Linked DNA regions of Homo sapiens. The protein of the gene in region 2 interacts with the protein of the main gene of each other region in a biochemical or structural test. Each region holds a gene or a part of one and is shown on either strand. Other genes may lie near its edges.

Region 1 (3,818 bases), on a different chromosome or scaffold from region 2:
ATAATAAAAATAAATAAGAGAAGAAAAAGAAAAGAAATGCTCAAGGGAGTCTTACATCTGGAAGTGAAAAGGCAAAAACACGTGAACTTAAAACTCACTGACAGCCCATACACAAAGAAGAAAGAGAAAGGAATCAAATCTTATCACTACAAAAAAAAAAAAAACATCAGCCAACCACAAAAAGAAACAATAAGAGGGGAAGTAAGGAACCAGGAATATATAAAACAATCAGAAAACAATCAATGAAATGAAAATAACCTATTAATAATAATGTGTATGTAAATGGATTAAATTGTCCCATTTAAAATATATGGACTGCCTGAATGAATGAAAAGAAAATCTAGACTCAGCTTGTTGGGGTGATCAGATCCAACACTAGGCCGTGGGGGCCACGAAGTCCAGCGGAGTCAAAGGAATGAGACAAGACAAGTTAATAGTACATAAAGTGAGTCCAGGGGGCCGACGCTAGTATGGAGGCTGTGAAGGCCCCGAGCTCTGGGAGCCCACACTATTTATTGGTAATCAAACAAAGAAGCAGGTGGTGAGGACGTGCAGAAGTGGGGATAGACAAGTGAGAACGTGAGGACTTTGGGGTAGAAAGGTAGCGGTGCATCAAGCATAGCTGTGACGGTTTAGCATATGCTCTGCTACTTGAAATAATGGAGAACAAGTTCTTTTCACTCAAGATACAATCAATTTATGATCCTGGGAGAGCAAGGAGCAAGGGGCCAGCAAGTCTGGACACATTCCAGAGGCTATGAGGGGTTTTATGCCCAGAGCCCTGGATTCTTTCCAAGCCACGAGGGGTTTTATGCCCTGGGCTTAGATTGCAGTGTGGCAGGGCAGCCTTCCACCCTTAGGCACAGAGCTTGGTGTTCCATAGGCCACGAGGGGTTTGAGACCCTGGACCCAGGACATGTTCCAAGACTCTTTTACATTATGTCAGACAAGCAAGCCCTGCCTCAGCCCTTCTACCAACACAGCTATATACTGCTTACAAGAAACTTATCTCACCTAGAAGACACACATAGACTGAAAAGGAAGAGATGGAAAAAGATATTCTACCCAAGTGGAAATGAAAGGAAGCAGGAATAGCTATACTTATCTCAGACAAAACGGACTACAAGTCAAAAGCTGTAAAGAGACAAAGAAGGACATTATATTATTATAAAGGGGTCAGTTCAGCACTATAATATAACAACTGTAAATACATATGCACACAACACCAGAGCACCCAGATATGTAAAGCAAATATTATTAGATATAAAGGGAGAGATAGACTCCAATACAATAATAGTTGAGGACTTCAACGCCCCACTCTCAGCATTGAACAAATCATCTAGACAAGATTAACAAATAAACGTTGGATTTAAACTGCACCATATACCAAATGAACCTAAGATATTTACAGAACATTTCAACCGACAGCTGCAGAATACACATGGTTTCATCAGCATGTGCAACATTCCCAAGGATCGACCATATGTTAGAACACAAAACAAGTGCCAAAAATTTTTAAAAACCAAAATGTATCAAGTATCTTATTTGACTACAATTGAATAAAACTAAAAATCAATACCAAGGGAAACATGCAAACTATACAAATACACAGAAATGAAACAAAATGATTCTAAATGACCAATAGTGAAGGAAGAAATTAAGAATGATATTTAAAAATTTCTCAAAATAAATAAAAATAGAAATAAAATATACCAAAACCTATGGGACACAGCAAAAACAGTTTTAAGAGACAACTTGAGAGAAATAAATGCCTACATCAAACAATTAGACAAATTTCAAGTAAACCATTTAACTGTGCATTTCAAGAAACTAGAAAGCAAGAACAAACCAAATCCAAAATCAGCACAATGAAAGAAATCATAAAGATCAGAGCAGAAATAAATGAAATTAAAAAAAAATCAATGAACAAGTTCGCTTTTTGGAAAAATAAATAAAATTGACAATCATTAGCTAAACTAAGAAAGAGACAGAAGACATAAAAATTAATAAAATCATAAATAAAAAAGAAGATGTCACAATGGTTACCACAGAAATACACAGGATCTTAGACACTACTATGAACAATATGCCAACAAATTTGAAAGTCTAGAAGAAATGGATAAGTTCCTGGACACATATAATCTACCGAGATTGAATCAAGAAGGTATAGAAAACTTCAGCAGACAAACAACAAGTAATGAGATTGAATGAATAATAAAAGGCCCCCCAACAAAGAAAATTCCAGGGCTGGATGGCTTCAGTGCTGAACTTTACTGAACCTTTAAAGAAAAAAAAATTATGCCAACTCTTCTCAAACTATTCCAAAAAATTGAAGTGGAGGCAACTCTTCCTAACTCATTCTACAAGGCCAGCATAACCATGACACCAAAATCAGAAAGGAGACAATAAAAAAAGAAAACTAGAGGCCAATATCCCTGATGAACATAGATGCAAAAATATTCAACAAAATAGTAGCAAATCAAATCCAACAATACATCAAAAAGATAACATACCATGATAAAGTGGGATTAATCCCAGAAAGGCAAGAATGATTCAACATATGCAAATCAATAAATGTTATACATATGTCAACAGAATGAAGGACATAAACCGTATGATCACCTAAATAGTTGCAGAATAAAAAGCATGTGTTAAAATTCAATATTGTTTCATGATAGAAACTCTCAATAAATTAGGTATAGAAGGAAAGTACCTCAACACAAAAAAGGCCATATATGACAAACCCATGGCTAACATCATACTGAATGGAGAAAAGCTGAAATCTTTTCCTCTAGGAACTGGATGTCCACTGTTATGACTCTTATTTTACATAGTACTGAAAGTCCTAGCCAGAGCAATTAGGCAAGAGAAAGAAATAAAAACCATCCAAACTGGAAAGGCGGAAGTCAAATTGTCTCTGCAAATAACATACAAAAACCTAAAGACTTGGCCAGGCGTGGTGGCTCATGCCTGTAATTCCAGCACTTTAGGAGGCCAAAGTGGGCAGATTGCTTGAGGCCAGGAGATCAAGACCAGCTTGGCCAACATGGTGAAATTCCATCTCAAAAACAAAACAAAACAAAACAAAACAAAACAAAAACCTAAAGACTCTAACAATAAAACTCTCAGAACTGATAAATGAATTTAGTAAATTTGCAGGATGCAAAATCAATATACAAAAATCAGTAGCATTTCTACACACAATGAATTAGCTGAAAATAAATCAGGAAGGCAATCACATTTACAATAGCTATAAGAGAATGAAGTATACCTAGGAATAAATTTAACCAAGGAGGTGACAAGCCTTAATAAGAAAAACTACAAAACACTGAGGAAATAAACTGAAGAGGATACAAACAAATGGAAAGACATTCCTTACTCATCAGATGAATTAATATTGCTAAAATGATTATACTACCCAAAGAAATCTACAGATTCAAACCTGGCTCTATCAAAATATCAATGTAATTCTTCACAGAATTAGAGGAAACAATCTTAAAATTCATATGGAACTAAAAATAGCCTGAATGGTCAAAGCAATCCCAAGCAAAAAAGAACAAAGCTGGAGGTATCACACTACAAGATTTCAAAATTTCAAAACTAGAAAATTTCAAAATTTCAAAAATTTAAAGATTTCAAAACTACAAAGCTGTAGTAACCAAAACAGCATGATATTGGCATAAAAGCAGATACATACACCAATAATACATAATAGAGAACACCGAAATTAATCCACGATCTACAGCCAACTGAATTTTGACAAATGCATGAAGAACACTCATTGAGGAAAGAGCAGTTTCTTTAATAAATGATGCTGG
Region 2 (3,818 bases):
ATCATAATGCCACCTGTCGATGTTATGTGGCTGAAATGAGATAAAGCATGTAAAGTGCCAACTCCTTGCCTGGCACGTAGCCAACCCCAATGCCTTAGCTGTTATCACCATTATTTCCAGCAGGGGAATCAGGGAGGCATCATGGAGGAGATGGCATTTGATAAGGGACCTGAGAATGGGTAGGAATTGAGTTTGTGAAGGTGGAGGAGAGGGCAGCCCTGGCAGAGGTGGAAGAACACAGGTGGGTTTAGGAGATGGTGGCTTCCAGCTGACACCAGGGTGAGGAGCCGGGGAGGGCTTGGGCTGGAATCGCAGGGGCAGTGAGCACCAGGAAGGGAGGCAAAGCTTTCCCTTCTGCACCCTGAGGAGCAAATGTTTTCAGCCTGGCTGACTAGAAGGATGGAGATGGAAACTAGGAGAGACATGAGGAGAGATTTTGGAAAGAGGTGGTTGGGCTCCTGCTGATGTCCTAGTACTGGCTGGACATGCTGGTGAGCCTGCCCAGCTGCCGCTTGGAATTGGAAGTCTGAGCTCAGAGACAAAGGGCTGCAAATGTAGGACCCAGGGGCCCGCTGCAGCTGTGGCAGGAGAGCATGGGGAGAGCATGGGTTGGGGTGGAAGAAAGGCCGCGATCAGCTGTCTGCCTGAGCTGCAAAACCTCTCTCCAGAAGTTTCCAAAGCAGTTTTGAACATTTAGGAGCTGCCATTTTCTTAGAGTTAAAAGATGAGCTGCTGAAATGTTGATACAGCATCATTCTTTCCTCTGAGTGCTACTGAAGCAGCTCCTGGAGAGGAGAGGGGTCTCTAGGAAGATGGTGGGCTCACAGTGGGCTGTATGCTCATTTGGGACGCAGCCTGCACTCTGCTGTCTCCCTCATGGCCCACTTCTCTCTGCACTCCCTGGGCTGCCCTCTCCACAGGCTGCCTTCCTTCTCCTTTAATCAAGGCCTGGCTGCCCCATCTTCTACCCTCATCCCTTGCCATGGGTACCCTGGAGAAGAAATGAGAAGAGTAGAATGTGGAGCCCCTGGAGCTGCACAGATGAAATGTGGCTGGGTGTGGTGGCTCAGCCTATAATCCCAGGGCTTTGGGAGGCCAAGGCAGGAGGATCGCTTGAGCCCAGGAGTTCAAGACCAGCCTGGGCGACACAGCAAGACCCCATCTCTAAAAAAAATAAAAATAAAAATAAAAATAGCTGAGTGTGGTGGCAAACGCTTGTGGTCCCAGCTACTTGGGAGGCCAAGGTGGGAGGTTTGCCTGAGCCCAGGATGTCGAGGCTGCAGTGAGGTATGATCACACAGTGCACTCCAGCCTGTGTGACACAGCAAGACCCCATCTCTTAAAAACAAAAGCCAAAAAAGATAATGAAACAATCTCAGTAAACAGGGCAGCAAGAGAGGCTTATATAATGTGCCATCCACCCCACCACAAATTCTGCTGTCTACCTCCACCTGGGTCCTCTGCACCAGCCTCACTGTTACTTATCCTCAGGTGGACCCCACCCCCATCCTCACTTGGCAGTTGTGTGCAGGGCCCGCACCCCACCCTCCACCTCCTACCTCCCTAAGAAGCTGGTGGCCTCTAGACTTGAGCTCCATCACCTTCCCACCATTGCAGGGGACAAGGCAGATGGAGGCAGACCCTCCATCCTGGGGACCTCAATGTCAAAGTGGGAGTTAGGATGGGCAGAGATGTGTGCTCCTCTTTATTTTTTTTATTTTTTTATTTTTTTATTTTTTTTTTGACGGAGTCTTGCTCTGTTGCCCAGGCTAGAGTGCAGTGGCGTGACCTCGGCTCACTGCAACCTCCGCCTCCCGGGTTCAAGCGATTCTCCTGCCTCAGCCTCCTCAGCCTCCCGGGTAGCTGGAAATACAGGCGCCCACCACCGCACCTGGCTAATTTTTGTATTTTTAGTAGAGACGAGGCTTCACCATCTTGGCCAGGCTGGTCTCAAACTCCTGACCTCGTGATCCACCCGCCTCGGCCTCCCAAAATGCTGGGATTACAGGCATGAGCCACCGAGCCTGGCCCATCTGCTGCTCTTTAGATCCAGGCTGGAGGGCCTCCTGAGCCAAGATTAGGCCTGCCCACAGCCCTCTGATGACATCAATGGGGAGAACAAAGCGAGTCTTTTGTATGCTACTGTGAATTAAATTCAGGTAACATGGTATTTGCTATTAATTATGAGGGAAAAGCTTTAGCTAGTCTGAGTCCTCTCCCTATACACATTCTCCTGTGGGATCCCCTCCTGTTCTTCCCTCCCACCCTTCCTTCCTTCCTTTCTTCATAACTCCAAGTTGGAAGGGACTTGGGGATGAGAAAAGAACAAAGGAGGAAATAAAGGCAGCGAAGTTTGGATCTTCGTTCTCCAAGTTGCTCAGAATCTAGTGGAACAGACAGGACCTTGAACAACTCATTTTAACACAACCTGGTGGGAGTTATGAGGGAAGAAGCATAGAACCCAAAGAACAAAGGGGAAGAGGGACTCCGGGGATGGGAGGAGAGCTTTGCAAGGGAGGCAGTGTGTGAACTGAGGCCTGAAGGACAGGCGTTCCCCAGGGGAAAGAGGGGAAGCAGGGCATTCCAGGCCAAGCTCCGGAGTTAGGGAAAGCCATAGTTGGTTTGGGAAGATTCAATATGGTAGAGGGGTGGAGTGTGTGAGGCTGGAGAGCTAAAATTTTGCGGGCTTAAGTCTGTTTAGTAGGGACCTCCTGGGAGATCTAACCTACCCAAGAGACACACATACACACACACAGACACACACACACACATACACAACCCTTGATGGCTATGTTTGCATTTACACTCCAGCCCCCTTGGCTACAATTGCCTGGCCAGTGGTAGGCAAGAGACGAAGAGGCTCTTCTCTCCTCCCTTTCCTCCTCCCTTCCTTCTCCTGACCCTGATTGGGTCAATCAACTTCTCTCTTAGGAATTTAGAGTGGGGCTGCAGAGAGTCCAGTTCATCTCTGTTGAGGGCTCAGAAGCTCTAGGGTAGCCACATTTGGCCTCATATGCATGGAACAGCTGAGAGAGACCAGAGCCCACATAGCCACTGAGCCAGAGTATGGTCACCGCCTGTGCTCCTTCCTAGCCTTCTTTGTGGTTCCTGGGTCCTCGTGAGGCCTGGTGGCCCTCCCTGTCCTTAGCCTTCAGGGTGAGATACTCTTTTCTTATACTCACTTGGATAGCTTTCAACTTTCTAAATATATTTTTCATTTGAGACAGATAGATACATGTAAGAGAAATAAGTGTCAAGAAGTAAAATTCACCCTTACCGTGGGTAATGCACTCTTGAGAGTCTCGGCTCTTTTTTCAAATGTTGATCACAATAAACAATTTGAAAAACACAGGGCCAGCGTGAGTGATTTTCTCTTATTTGCAACCAAAAGCCTCATTTGAGAAATCGTGTTAACATATGTAACCAGCAGAGAGGGTGTGAGTACAGGGGTTACATTCTTTCTGTTCATCAGAAAGATCTGATCTCATCAGAGATACAGATAGGTTTCTACTCCTGTTTCAGCTCTAATCTGTGTGTGTGTGTGTGTGTGTGTGTGTGTGTGTGTCAGGGTCTTGCTCTGTCACTCAGGCTGGAGTGCAGTGGTGTGATCAAGGCTCACTGGACCCCCGACTTCCCGGGCTCAAGCAATTCTCCCACCTCTCAGCCTCCCAAGTAGCTGGGACTACAGGTGTGTACCATCACATCCAGTTACTTTTTTTTTTTTTAATAGAGATGGGGTTTTGCCATGTTGCCCCAGCTGATCTGGAACTCCTGGGCTCCAGTGATCCACCTGCCTTGGCCTCCCAAAGTGCTGGGAT

What was found.
Region 1: the proteins of LEP (region 2) and CD33 interact in a biophysical measurement, tested with the Homo sapiens proteins (one study listed by IntAct).

What each region holds. Positions count from the first base shown.
Region 1 is NC_000019.10:51,227,950-51,231,767, reverse strand, and holds part of CD33 (myeloid cell surface antigen CD33 isoform 1 precursor), read right to left. Parts: intron 1-3,818. UniProt on the Homo sapiens protein: Sialic-acid-binding immunoglobulin-like lectin (Siglec) that plays a role in mediating cell-cell interactions and in maintaining immune cells in a resting state.
Region 2 is NC_000007.14:128,243,994-128,247,811, reverse strand, and holds part of LEP (leptin precursor), read right to left. Parts: intron 1-3,818. UniProt on the Homo sapiens protein: Key player in the regulation of energy balance and body weight control. Once released into the circulation, has central and peripheral effects by binding LEPR, found in many tissues, which results in the activation of several major signaling pathways.